2 linked regions of the Homo sapiens genome follow. The protein of the gene in region 2 interacts with the protein of the main gene of each other region in a pairwise test. Each region holds a gene or a part of one and is shown on either strand. Other genes may lie near its edges.

What was found. The genes of interacting proteins can lie anywhere in the genome.
Region 1: the proteins of ATXN10 (region 2) and API5 interact in binary tests that used the Homo sapiens proteins (3 or more experiments, as listed by UniProt).

What each region holds. Positions count from the first base shown.
Region 1 is NC_000011.10:43,314,969-43,321,995, reverse strand, and holds part of API5 (apoptosis inhibitor 5), read right to left. Parts: intron 3,576-7,027; exon of another isoform or gene 3,514-3,575; intron 3,357-3,513; coding exon 3,195-3,356; intron 1,176-3,194; coding exon 1,082-1,175; intron 586-1,081; coding exon 520-585; intron 12-519; coding exon 1-11. UniProt on the Homo sapiens protein: Antiapoptotic factor that may have a role in protein assembly. Negatively regulates ACIN1. By binding to ACIN1, it suppresses ACIN1 cleavage from CASP3 and ACIN1-mediated DNA fragmentation. Also known to efficiently suppress E2F1-induced apoptosis.
Region 2 is NC_000022.11:45,667,608-45,674,835, reverse strand, and holds the start of ATXN10 (ataxin-10), read right to left. Parts: upstream 3,003-7,228; 5' UTR 2,773-3,002; coding exon 2,657-2,772; intron 1-2,656. UniProt on the Homo sapiens protein: May play a role in the regulation of cytokinesis. May play a role in signaling by stimulating protein glycosylation. Induces neuritogenesis by activating the Ras-MAP kinase pathway and is necessary for the survival of cerebellar neurons.

The DNA of each region.
Region 1 (7,027 bases), on a different chromosome or scaffold from region 2:
ACCTAAAGTCCCTGCAAAACAAAATAGTTGCCTGTAGCAAGTCAATTCTATAGTGTAATGGTGTTTTCCCATTTAACTCAATTTATAGTATTTCTTCTCAAATAAGTTAATGAACTTCCCAAATATCATCCTCATTACTAGTTAAAAGTAGTCTGAAATTTCTACAGCCTGAACCATAAGAGTGCTTTCTTCATGAAGACATAGTCAGCTTAAGCATGACTTTCCTTTTTTATCATTACTAATAATAAAACCCAGGTATTTTGGAAGAATTTCTTGAAAGTGTCAAAAGGAGTTCTTCCAACAGATTTCTAATGGAAAAACGTGATCTGTTTTTGCAGTTATTTCTGCTCGTTTTTCTAGTCATAAACATCTTGACCTAAGGAGACTTTTTTCACAATACTTAGAATTTTTATGAAATAGAACTCTGGGTAAACCCTAGAGTTTATTCTTAATGAGTAACACCTAACTTTGTGATTCTGTAAGACATCAAACACAATTCAGAATAAGAACTGGCCTTACCTTTTGCATCCATTTTAAATATACTTAATAGGGCATTGTTCACTAGGTTAAATTCTGCAGAGTCATCTGGATAAAGAAAAAGTGGCATAATGAATATAAAACAAATTTAAAATATCATCTGCTTCAGTTTCAAACTTGATTCAACTTAGTTTCTCAAGGTTACATTGACAGGAAACTTATAACTTAAGCCATTCCCTCAAGTACCAAAAAGATACGTGTTCCTTGTAAGTTGAGAACCCGATCTGGCATGCCTGAAAAACTTTTATTAAGATGCTACAATTATGAAACTACAGGAAATTGGGGGAAAAATTATGATATATCAAAATGCCCAAAAGAATCTAGTCATTACACCTTCATAACGGAATTAAAAACAAAACAACACCAGGAATTAGATAACCAGAAATCATTACACTTTAACTACTGAATGAAAGTAGGAAATTTAATCTCTATCAGAGGTAGGACCTCCAGCTCTCCTGCACCCCATTTAAAACCTAAAAACAGAGTCAACATTTCAGAAAGAAGATATATATTTAGAGAAAAAGGTAATAATAAAATCCCTTACCTGTCTGCAAAAGTTGCGTTAGTATATCTGCCACTCGAGGAAGATTTTCTCCAGTGGCAAATTGAGGCAGTTCTTTAATTGCTTGACGTCGAATCTGGGCATGATTTCAAACAAAAATTAACCAAATACTATCACCTTTAAAATAACAAACAGCTTTTTCTTTTCTTTCTTTTTTTTTTTTTTAAAGACAAGGTATTGCTCTGTTGCCCAGGTTGGAGTGCAGTGGTGCAACCATGGCTCAATGTAGCCTTGACCTTCTAGGCTCAAGAGAGCCTCTTGCCTTAGCCTCCCTAGTAGCTAGGACTATAGACGCAAGCCTCCACGCCTGGCTAATTTTAAAGGCGGATTTCCCTATGTTGCCCAGGCTGTTCTCGAACTACTGGGCTCAAGTGATCTTCCCACCTCAGCCTCCCAAAGTGTTGGGATTACAGGCATGAGTCACCATGCCCAGCTGCAAACTCAACTTTTTAAGAAAACTAAAACCACAGAGAAGCCATCATTAGGGGCATACGAGTCACAAAAATATGAAACAGCAGATTTCTAGCAGTTTTAAAAAGAATTTGCTCCAATTGGCCGGGCGTGGTGGCTCACACCTGTAATCCCAGCACTTTGGGAGGCTGAAGCAGGTGGATCACGAGGTCAGGAGTTTGAGACCAGCCTTGCCAATATGGTGAAACCCTGTCCGTACTAAAAATACAAAAATTAGCCAGGCGTGGTGGCACACGCCTATAGTCCCAGCTACTTGGGAGGCTAAGACAGAAGAATCGCTTGAACCAGGGAGGCGGAGGTTGCAGTGAGCCAAGATTGCACCACCGCACTCCAGCCTGGCCAATAGAGTAAGGCTCCTTCTCAAAAAAAAAAAAAAAAAAAAAGAGAGAATTTGCTCCAATTTAATCTTCAAGTTACACAGAATAAAATATAAAAAGGGATGTTAACAATGTCTCGCTGAAGGAGACAGATTTGAGATTATAAACAACTATTTACATGCTAATTATATGCAACTGTTAGGTTTTTACTACCTATGGGCTTATAATATAGTATTCCTAAAAAATGGCTACTGTGGCAATGTTATACCTAGTAACTGTTTACTTTAGAATTTTCAGTATTGACTACTAAATACAACATTTGTGGCTATATTCTGCATGTTTAATTCCAAATACTGATCTTGGCTTATTCGATTTTTACATAAAATATGTACAGCGGGCCAGATGAGGTGGCTCACGCCTGTAATCCCAATGCTTCAGAAGGCCAAGGTGGGAGGATAGCTTGAGGCCAGGAGTTTGAGACCAGCCTGGACAACATGGCAAGACCCTACAAAAAAATTAAAAATCAGCTGGGAACGGTGGTCTGTGCTGCTTGGGAGGCTAAAGTGGAAAAAAATGCATGAACCCAGGAGTTCAAGGCTGCAGTGAGCTATGGATGTGCAACTGCACTCTGGTCTAGGCAACAGAGTGAAACCCTGTTTCTATTAAAAAAGCAAAAAAAGTATAGGGTTTATATCCAGCAAATTCTGCATGAAATGTTGGCAATTCGCTGTTTCATCTGAAAAGACAAGAGCTAACGGCTGAATATTCTTAGGAACCTGTGTCAGCAGCCAGAAATATTACTGGTTAATTCTGTTCCAAAAAACCCCCCAAAAACCAAAAAACAAAAACTATTTCTTTTTAATCTAGTAATCCTATTCACTTATTACACATACCATTTTTCTGCCATGCAAAATATATAAGGGTAGTGAAACTACATTTTATGATATAACACTTAATAATTTAAATATCCAAGTAAGCACAAATTGATTAAAAACAGTCTAATTTCATATGCACAATGAATAACAATCTATGAAACAAGATGTGAGCCACAACCCATTTTTAACAGTGGATAAATGATAAGCGAAACTAAGTATTTTGAGATTCTATGCATTTTTCATAATTTAAAGGTGTTGAAAAAGGCTAATACACTTTATCATATGTAAATTTAAGCCTGGGTGTGATGCCATGCCAGACCATACCATAGTATTTTATTGTGTACTCTGATATATCAGATTGCTACTCCAATTGTATCAGCCACATACAGAAACATCTGAAAGATTGCTATGAAGTGTCATTCATAAACTTACAGATACATCTTCATCCTCACAGAGGTCTAACTGTGCATTGATAGCAGAATCAGCCAATTCTGGAAAATGCTTAAAGAATTTCGGAATAAATTGAGCTGCTAATCGCTTTTCCTTAGTACCACCTTTCACACCATCCAATATCACTTGATAGGCATCTTTATGCTGAAATAAAAAATAAAGCAGGAAAGACACATGATTTTGAAGGATGGGAAGCAAAGTAAAAGACCATAACAAACATGTTAGAGTGTGCTTTAAATTTTTACACAGGCTAAGAAATAAAGCTGATTTTGGGAGGTTTACTGCTCAAACTGACACTTACCTTCCCAATTCCGTTCTCCCTCCATCTTTGTTTCATTTTTGAGTTGGGGGAGATGGATGAGTCTAATTTTAAGTGGAAAAAGCAAATGTGTTTGTTAATATGCCAATACTTCTTCATTCTAGTGATTATTAACTCTGGCCATGTGACTGTATCATGCTTAAAAAATTTGTAATGGGCCAGGCGTGGTGGCTCACGCCTGTAATCCCAGCACCTTGGGAGGCCAAGGTGGGTGGATCACCTGAGGTCAGGAGTTCAAGACTAGCTTGGCCAACATGGTTAAACCCCGTCTCTACTAAAACACAAAAATTAGCCAGGCGTGGTGGTGTGCGCCTGTAATCCCGGCTACTCGGGAGGCTGAGGCAGGAGAATTGCTTGAGTCCGGGAAGCGGAGGTTGCAGTGAGCTGAGATCGTACTACTGCACTCCAGCCTGGATGACAGAGTGAGACTCTGTCTCCAAAAAACAAAACAAAACAAAACAAACAAACAAACAAAACAATTGTAATGATGGCCAGGTGTGGTGGCTCATGCCTGTAATCTCAACACTTTGGGAGGCCGAGGTGGGCAATCACTTGAGCTCAGGAGTTCCAGACCAGCCTGCCCAACATGGTGAAACTCCCTCTCTCTAAAAATACAAAAATTAACTGGGTGTGGTGGCAGACATTTGTAATCCCAGCTCCTCAGGAGGCTGAGGCAGGAGAATCGCTTGAACCCAGGAGGCAGAGGTTGCACTGAGCTGAGATCGCACCACTGCATTCCAGATTGGGTGACAGAATGAGACTCTATCTTAAACAAGTAAATAAATAAATCATCATGAATACCATAGAATTCACAAAGAATTGCACTGTATTTACTTAAACAAAAATTTACCTGTTTCTAATTAGCACCTTGAAGAAGGTGAAGGGAATACATTCCAGAAATTTAGCAATTCCAGCAATGTTAGGAAGTGCAGTTTAATTTTACCTCATAGCAGTATATGAAAGCCATGACAATTCACTCCATATAGCCAGACAATTTTGGATTAAGACGGACTCTAATGTCACATGTTTAAACCTTTTATTGGAACAATACACTCAAAGCTCATGTTTCCTTAAAAAAAAAAATCACAGGTGCTCTCCCTCAAATACTCATAATGGGAGGAATCAATAAGTTCCCAATCCTCCTTAAGTACTTGCCTCCAAACCAGTCCTTTTATGAAATGACACTGATAAAGATGGTAAATAACAGTAACAAATACAGAAAGACTACACATATATATTGTTTGGACATATGAATAAAACTTAGTAACTGGAAAAACAACTTAAAAATTATAATCTTGACCAAACATATACACAGTATAGTATTTATTATGTATAAGGAGTGTTCTAAGTGCTTTAGACACATGAGCTTACTTCATGCCATCAAGCGGGGAATGACCAATAAATATCCAATGAACTACAGAATTACCAAATTTATTTTACAGTGATTCTTTTTTGTTGATAATGCTATGTTAAGTGAAAAAATAAAGCAGGATGCAAAGTTACAGAACAACTCCCAAATAACAGAAATTTCTGTGAATAAGGTTAACTTCTTCATGAAATGCAGATATATGAGTCTTCAGGAGTCATCACTGAAAAGTGTATTATAAACACATCAAGACCCTGTCTCTCCAAAAAATATAAAATTAACCAGGCATGGTGGTGTGTGCTTGCAGTCCCAGCTACTGGAGAGGCTGAGGGAGGAGAATCACTTGAGCCCAGGCGATAAAGGCTGTGGTAAGCCATGGTCGCGCCCAGGAGTTAGAGGCTGTGGTAAGCTGTGGTCGCGCCACTGCACTCCAGCCTGACAGAGCAAGACCCTGTCTCAAAGAAAGAAAGGTATATGACATACTTTTCACCGCAAACATTAAAAAAAGAAATCATGCTGACTTCTCTACCACTTTACATTCCTGTGGTTTGCCTCAGACTTCTAGGCAGGCTTCATAAAATCAAAGTTTGTTCTGACACCCTTACTTTTTGCAGGGTATCACAAATCTAATTTTCTTTAACTCAAACTTACTCATAAAGCCATTTGAAGAAACTCCTTACACTGTCCAAAATTAAATGAAAAAAAAAAAACCCTGCTTAAAACAAAACTTCCTTTTGCCAAGAAAAAAATATTAAATCTGGAATCAAATAAAAAGGAATCATTAACAATATTTATTGAAGGTCTACCAGGGACTGAGTGATTCCTTGTCTATATCACAATAGGTGTTACTACTATTCTTATCTTTTAGATGAGGAAACTAGGGCTCAGAGAAGTGAAATAAATATTTCCACATATTTTTGAGGGATTACGAACTTGGTTGGTCAGTGGTTTTAGCTTAATCATACAAAAAACCCTACTACAAGAGTGGTTATTTCATGAAATAAAAGTCCAAGAAGCCTACACGCCAACCCTGCAAAGCTAGTATACTCAATGATTGAGAGAACAGGAGGAATCAGGGTTTCAGCATTATACAGATCTAATCAGCCCCACTGCCATGGTCCTTTAACAGGTGTCGGATACATTTTTTAACTTTTAAGATTTTGACTACATAATATAAAATTAAGTATCTATATTTAAAGTAAGTAAATTCATAATAATTTGAAACAGAATTTTAAATAATGGTGGGCCACAGCTTGCTCTATTATGGCTAGTCAGGAGCCCTGGGCAGAGTACAGTGGAAAAGGAGATCAGAAAGGTAAAGGAGCACACAAGAGAAGAGTGAGACCTGAAGGAGTAGCAGAGGCAGAGTGGGGGAAAGGCAGGATGAACGCATAGGCAGAACATGGCAGTTACATGAGAAGATGATAGGACTGGAAGATTTGAGGTATTAAATAATTCTGCACTTAGAATTTGTCATCTGCAGTTTGCTTATTAGAATATACATGCTCATATATGTATGTATGTGTGTGTGTATGATAAAGTTCCCTTTATCCATTAGAGATAATCTGTGTAAATGGTTTTTCTTTTCTTTTGTAAATGGTTTCTCTGTTCCTTCTTCCAATACATTTCTTCAACTATGAAAAAGAAATGCTTACTGAAGGGCAAGGTACAGTGCAAGAAGAGAAGCAATAAATAAATAAATAAATAAATACATAAAAGGATTTAACCCTTGAGACGTTATAATTTAAGTACAGAAATAAATAAAATAAAATACAAGTCTGAAGCATTATTAGTAAGTACATCGTACCAAGGGGTTCAAAAAGAGGATTTGATCTGCTTTGGGGAAATTAGCCGATAAAACCTCAGACGGCTTGTAAGTTTACCCTTATATATTTAGAAGGCACTACTCTGAAAGGAGTATTGACAATAATGGGGAGGGAATAGTCTGTAGTGGCAGCAATCAGAACACCTGTAGTGCTCACCTCTCTGGTAAAGGTTGATAATCAAAGTAAAAGTTAGAAGGAAGTCAAGACTGACAAACTTGAATGCAGTCTCAGAAGTATCCAGACAGGTATTTGCCAGGAAACTTAGTACTGATCATAAATCTCTCATAAGTTGACATGAAAATCA
Region 2 (7,228 bases):
GTCTATGATTCTTCAAATATAAAATGGAATCCTAGAGAAATAATGTATTCCACCAAAAGAGAAGAATCTCTTAATTACTTTCCTCACTGTTTTTGCTTTTTGTCTGCTGTTTTCTATTTGCTACACTGAGGACTCATTTTGCCTGGCTTTTTGTCTCGTCCACCTTCTAACACCTTGGCCCATCCTCCCCCTGGATCCATCTGTGTTCCTGTTCATACTAGACAACAGCCCTATGTCCTCTCTGAAGAGGAGACCCCCAAGGACAAACACTGGCTCCCTGAGCATCAGAACTGGAGGGATCCTCTCAGAGGAGCAGGAGTCTGGGCCCAGCCCCACAAGACCCTTATAATTTGTCCAAAGACAAAGAGAAGCAGTGACAGAACCAGGACCAGAAGCCTGTCCTTATAAACCCTGATCATGAGTTCTCTGCACCACCACACAACTGTGTCTTTCCATGCCAGGACCTGCACATCAGTTCACCTTTCCTGGTCTCCAATCTCTGCCTGGAACAAGGACACTGTCCCAGAACTCAGATGAAATCTGGGAAGCATCCTCATTTCCTCATTCTCCCCCCCACAATCCAACTGGTCCGAGTCCTGTCCATTCAACCTTGTATCTCTCAGTATTTATTCTACTCATCCCCACAATGTCCTAATTTAGGCACTTTTCTCTTTCACATGGGCTTCCGCTACCACTCCTTAAAGGTCCCCCCTGTCTCTAGCTTCGTCCTCTCATTTATTCCCCACAATGGAGGCGGAGGCGGCCAGGAAGATCTAACAGGCAGATCTTATCGCGCCACTCCCTTGACAAAAACCATCAATGGTTCTCTGTAACTTCTTCCCTCACAAGAGATAGAGTCAAGAAGGGCCTTCTAAACTGGCTCAGGGGCTTGGATTTTCTCCAAGTTATAAAAAGGGAACTGATGTCTGACTAAATGTCTCTTCTGTACGAGAAACCTTATCTATGTTACTTAATTGTCTCATCGGTTTTGCAAAATTAACATATGGCCCCTTTGCAGACACTGTTCCCTCTAGTCCTCTCATCTATAACCGAGCACCTGAAATAACCTTAAAAAGCCTCTCCTGGCTCGCCAATCTTCCAACATATCCACATGCTCCCCTGTGCCACCACCTCTTGTATAGATTTCCATTACAATGTGTTTATTTAGCTATTTCCCAAATATGCCTGATAAAAGGGATCACTCACATCATTCCTCTCTGTACCCTCAGACCCCAACAAAAAAATCTGTTTCATAGTAGGTGCTCAATAAATGGTTGATGACTGGGTTATTAACTAAAAGGAGGGTCCATCATGATACAGAAATGCCTAAGCATTAAATCAATAAATACATCTCCCCCAAAGGCCCATAGAGCAGTACCAGGGACTTTTATTAATAGCATTCCTTCAGCAGCTCCACATTTCCCAAAGTGATGTGAGGTAAAGGAAGTGCTCAGACCAGGTGTCTAGTTTAAAGAGAGGAAGTCCTCTAGTGATCACCTAGGCTGACCCAAGTCTCAGTATTTCTTTCTTCAATGTTCCCTCTGCTTTGTACATACATACCCCCACAGCTGTGTTATCTTGTACATACTAGTACAGGAGAGAGCAAGGACTTTCCATTTTCCTACCCCATCACCTAGCACAATAGCTGATACATGGGTAACTACCAATCAATGTGTTAAGTGATAATATCAGCTACATTTAGTGCTATGTACAGGTATGTCCTAAGGATTTAATATGCATTATATCTCATTTACTCCTTATGACACTATCACCAGGGAGGTACTGTTCAACTTTACTCCCATTAAATAGACAAGAAAACTGAGGCCCAGAGGACAGAACAAGATCAAACAAGCATTGACTGAGGGCTTCGCACATTTTATATTTTCACGTACTTTATTTCATTTATTCCTCTGTACAATCCAGCAACTAAGCTGTGTATTATAGTCCCATTTTTAGACAAGAATTCTAAGGCCTGGAGAAACTGCACAGTAACACGCAGCTTGCAAGGCCAGGAACCAAATCCACAACTGTCGACTCCTGGGCACCTTCTCTTTTTGCCTGGCTATCTTGCCCCTCAGTGGCATCAGGACTGGACTGGTCTCTCCAGGCCCGTGCTCTTCCACACTGCACAGAGCGCTGCCCCCAGGGCAGATGGTGCAGCCTGGGCTCTAACGCCGAGGAGAAAGGAGTGCCAGTCCCACTCCATGCCTAGAGACTGCCATCCCCGCAACTGCCCAATTCCCGCGTCCGTAACACGGGTCTCTCCCGCTAAAACACACGCTTTATGACTCTGGGGGCCGCGTGGGTCTTGCAGCCAGGGCCTGGCGCAGCCCTCGCACATGACAGGGGAGGCCTAACCGTGTGTTGGGTCAACATCACCGGCACGCCGCGGCAAGGGCTCCCGGGATCGCGGCTTCGCACCCGGACTGGCTGCGGTGGGGGAGCGGGGCGCCCGCCCCAGGCCCCGCGGGGACCCACGAGCACGAGGCGGTGCCTGGGAGTCGGGAGGCCTGGGTGGCGCTCAGGCAGCCCGCGCAGGCCTCGCCCTCCGCGTCTCCAGCGAGGCGGGGGCGGCGCCTGGGTCCAGGCCGGGGCCGCCGCGGGAGTCCCGGCCGCCCTCCCCTGCCCGGGGCAGCCCCCCGGCCGGACCCGTTACCGGTTCCGCTGCTCTTTGAAGAGCGCCGTGAGCGCGCGCAGGGCCTCCAGGTCTTGGATGGGCGCCGGCACCATGACGCCCGACAGCCTGGCAGGCGGCGGCCTGGGCGCCGCCATCTTGCCGCTCACAGCTGGGTCGAGCCTGACGAGGAGGAGGAAGGCGAGGAGGACGAAGGGGGAGGATGACGAGGAGGGAGGAGTAGGATGGCGAGGAGGAAGGGGGAGGCCTCGCCCTACACAGCCCTAACCGCCGCCGCCGCTGCAGCCCGCGCTGCCCTGAAGCTGCGCCGCCGCCGGAGAGCTCTAGGCTGAGCCCAGACTCGCCTCAGGCGGGAGGAGGAGACGGCGCCGCGGGGGAGGGGGCGCCGGCGGAAGTCCCGCCTGAGGGGAGGGGGCGCGGCGGAAGTTCTGGGTGAGAGCGGGGAGGGATGCTGGGGGTGATTGACTGGGAAGCGTCGCAGACGGGGCTCCTCCGAGGGGAGGGGACGCCGGGGGGAGGGGGACCTGTGTTGATGTGGCCGTAACAGGGTCTCGGTCTTGGGAGCGGGTATCGGGAACCAGAGGTTCACCCTGAGAAAGAGGGGCGCGTCCTATAGGAGGGTGCCCGCGGACAGAGGGGTCTCCCCCAGGGGAGGGGATCCGGGGGGTAAGGGGCCTGTGGAGGGTGGGGCCGTAACAAGGTCTCGGTCTTGGGAGCGGGTATCGGGGACAGAGGTTCACCTTGAGGAAGAGGGGCCCTCCTGTGGGAGGGGGCCCGCAGACAGAGTGGTCTCCCCCAGGGGAGGACATTCTGGGTGGAGGGGACCCTCTTGGGAGGAGACGCTGACTGAGGGTCTCGGGAACGAAGGGGGCCGGGCAGAGGCTCCCACTGCTAAGGCTGAAGACCTTGATCCCACTGCTCAAGTGGGTTGATCAGTGCCCCCGCCCGGGTCCACTGGAAGCTGGAGCGGTCTGTCACTAGCTTGCAAGTCTCAGGCCCTGAAAACGCACTTCCCAGTACTTACTGATCATTGCTGATCAATACCAGACCACTTACCAGGCACTTTGCCTCTAGTGAGTATACATTGCTCCAGCTCCTCAAAGCCTTAAAATACCGTTCGAAGTCAAGAAGCTAAGTTACACAGCAATAGGGTTAGAATTGTTTTTTTTCCTAAGGGAAATGAATATATTTCACAGGAATCAGACAAGGCTTCTCTAGCTGGTGTTGATAACTCACATATTTTCTTTCCACTGCCCTTTATTACAGTGTATATACTTTCAACAAAAATTGTTGCTAAGCCCTGCGCTAGGTGCTGGAGATGTAAAGATTAATAAAAGACAGTTCCAAACCTGAAGGAACCTCACAGACTATTGAGAAGGAGAGAAGCAAACATAACTGAGTATAGTTGTGAACTGCTATAACTGTACAAATTGCTGTGGGACCACTTAAAATATATAAATACATACCCTTTACATTCTGCTTGGAGGGTAGGAGTGTGCTTATAACATGGCGCTTTTAACATTCTTTGCTAAATAAAATGTAAAGATAACAATAAACACCACCAGAGTATGCAGAAAAAGTGAATCCTGGTGGGGCATGGTGGCTCATGCCTGTAATCCCAGCACTTTGGGTGGCCAAGGCAGGAGGATTACTTGAGCCCAGGAGGTCGAGGCTGCAGTGAGCTGTGATCACACCACTGCACTCCAGCCTGGGTGGCAGAATGATACCCTGTATCAAAAAAAAAAAAAAAAAAAAAAAAAAAGGAGGGAGGGAAATGAATGCTGCTGCACAAGCAAGTTACTTGATATTGTCATTCAGTTTACCCATTTAATTGAGTATGTATTTATTCATTCCACGAATATTGCGGTGTACTATGTGCCAGGTATTAGATCACTTATTAGTAGCAGTGCTCAAGACAATGCAAAATGTTTAACACTCCTTAAGCTAACAGGGCAAAAATCTCTTAATTTTCCCTTGAGGAGCACAGGATAGTAAAATGTACTTGTTATGCACCAAAATCCTGATCTTTAGGCCAGACACGGTGGCTCATGCCTGTAATCCCAGCACTTTGGGAGGCCGAGGCGGGCAGATCACTTGAGGTCAGGAGTTCAAGATCAGTCTGGCCAACATGGCAAAACCCCCTTTCTACTAAAAATTAGCCAGGCATGGTGGCGGGTGCCTGTAGTCCCAGCCATTTGGGAGGCTGAGACAAGGGAATTGCTTGAACCTGGAAGGCACACGTTGCACTGAGCTGAGATCATACCACTGCATTCCAGCCTGGGCAACAGAGGGAGACTCTGTCTCAAACAAACAAACAAAAAAACCTGGCCTTTAGTTTTCTTATTCTCAAATGTAACATTCCCAGAAAAACATTCCCTATAATATTCATACTTCTTGCCTGGAATATTGTAATATATTCCTGATTGGTCTTTTGGCCTCTGCTCTTGCTTCCTTACGTTTTAGATCGTTTAAAAAATATTTCAACATTTAACTCTGCCCAAAACCCTCTAAGGGATTTCCATTTCACTCAGAGTAAAAGCCAAGTTCTTCCAATAGAAAAGCCCCTAAATGACCTGCCTCCTCCTTCGCCATCACCTCCAGCCCCTGTGGGCTCTAATCACATCTACTAGCCTCTTCCTCTTCCATTGTGCTTCAGCCATACTGACCTCCTTATTGTCCTCTGTCTATTTAAAAGGAATAAGCTGAGGTAAAATCAATATAAAGAGTTTATTTGGGCCAACGTGAGCATTGCAGTCCAGGACACACATCCAAGTTGCCTTGGGGAGTGCTCTGGAGAACGAAAGAGAAGCTCAACTTTTTAAAGAAAAAAGGACGAATCAGGAGAGAGGGTGATTTAAAAGGTTGTTTGTCATGAATTCTCATTGGTTTAAGAAATAATGTTGGTTAATGATTGGCTGTACAATGTTGAACTATAGATTGTATGCCATTGTGTAGCTAGTTGACATCAGTTCGTCTAGAGGCCAAATAGAATGTGGCTTCAAGAGGTAATTAGGCCAGGCATGGTGGCTCATGCCTGTAGTCTCAGTGCTTTGGGTGGCTGAGGCAGGAGGATTGCTTGAGCCCAGGAGTCTGAGACCAGCCTGCACAACATAGTGTGAGACCCCCCATCTCTACGAAAAAATTTTTAAAAAATTAGGCATGGTGGTACATGGCAATAGTCCCAGCTACTCCAGAGGCTGAAATGGGAGGATTCATTGAGCCTAGGAGTTGAAGGCCTCAGTGAGCTATTACCACACCACTGCAGTCCAGCCTGGGTAATAGAGAGAGACCCTGTCTTTAAAAAATAGTAATAATTCCTTTTGAAAAGAGGTAAGTATTCAGCTCAAGGAGGAGAGACATGATTGGTGTTTCATTCCAATGCTTCTCTAGGCCCGATCATTTAAAGGAGATCATATTCCTCAGATAAAGTTTTGTTTTTCCTTTTTTTTTTTTAAATCCCATAACTCCACCAGGAAAAGAACTCTCCTGCCTTAGGAGTTTGTATATGCTGGTGTTTTTGTTTTTGTTTTTGTATAGAACAACTCCTCACAAACATCTCCATGACTTGCTTCCTTATTTCCTTCAACTACCTGTTCAAATGATCTTTTAACAACCTTCCTGATCAATCTATTTAAAATTGTAACAGGCTACCCAAATTCCTGATCCCCAGGAATTTTCCGCATAGCACTTAATACTTGATATATAACTTACTTTTCTATTTTGTTTATTGTTGCTTATCTATTTCACTTACTACTAGAATGTAAGCTCTACAAGGGTAGAGATTTTTGTCTCTTTTGGTTATTTTTGTATCTCCAGCCCAGCACCTAGAAAAAGACCTACTATGTGGTAATTGCTCAATAAAAGTTGAATTAATGAACAAAGAATCTTTTTAACTATATCAGCAGAGGCCGGACGCGGTGGCTCATGCCTGCTTACGGTTGTAATCCCAGCACTTTGGGAGGCGGAGGCAGGCAGATCGCCTGAGGTCAGCAGTTTGAGACCAGCCTGGCCAACATGGTGAAACCCCCATCTCTACTAAAAATACAGAAAAAAATTAGCCAGGCATGGTGGCAGGCACCTGTAATCCCAGCTACTCAGGACGCTGAGGCAGGAGAATCACTTGAGCCTGGGAGGCAGAGGTTGCAGTGAGCTGAGAGCACGCCATTACACTCCAGCCTGGGTGACAGAGCAAGACTCCATCTCTAAATAAATAAATAAATAAATATACATATATATATATATATATATATATATCTGCAGAAAGGAGAAAGGAGATAGCATGCCTCTAGAAGAAGTGCAATAATCCAAAAAGTACAGAAAAGGAGGCTGATGGAAAAAGAAGAAAAATTATAAGGGAAAAGATTAAAACAGAGAGATTAACAGGACAGACAAAAAGTAGAAATACGCATAAGAGAAACGAAAGGAAATTAAACTGGTCAAACAGTGGATGTTATTGACTGCCCAAAATCGACTAGAGGATTTCAACCTTGACTGAATTGACAGAACCAAGTTAATATTTCACTAGGGCTAAATGACATTGTTAATGTTATATAGCTGTTTGACTTAGACAAACCAGATGAACATGCCACCATG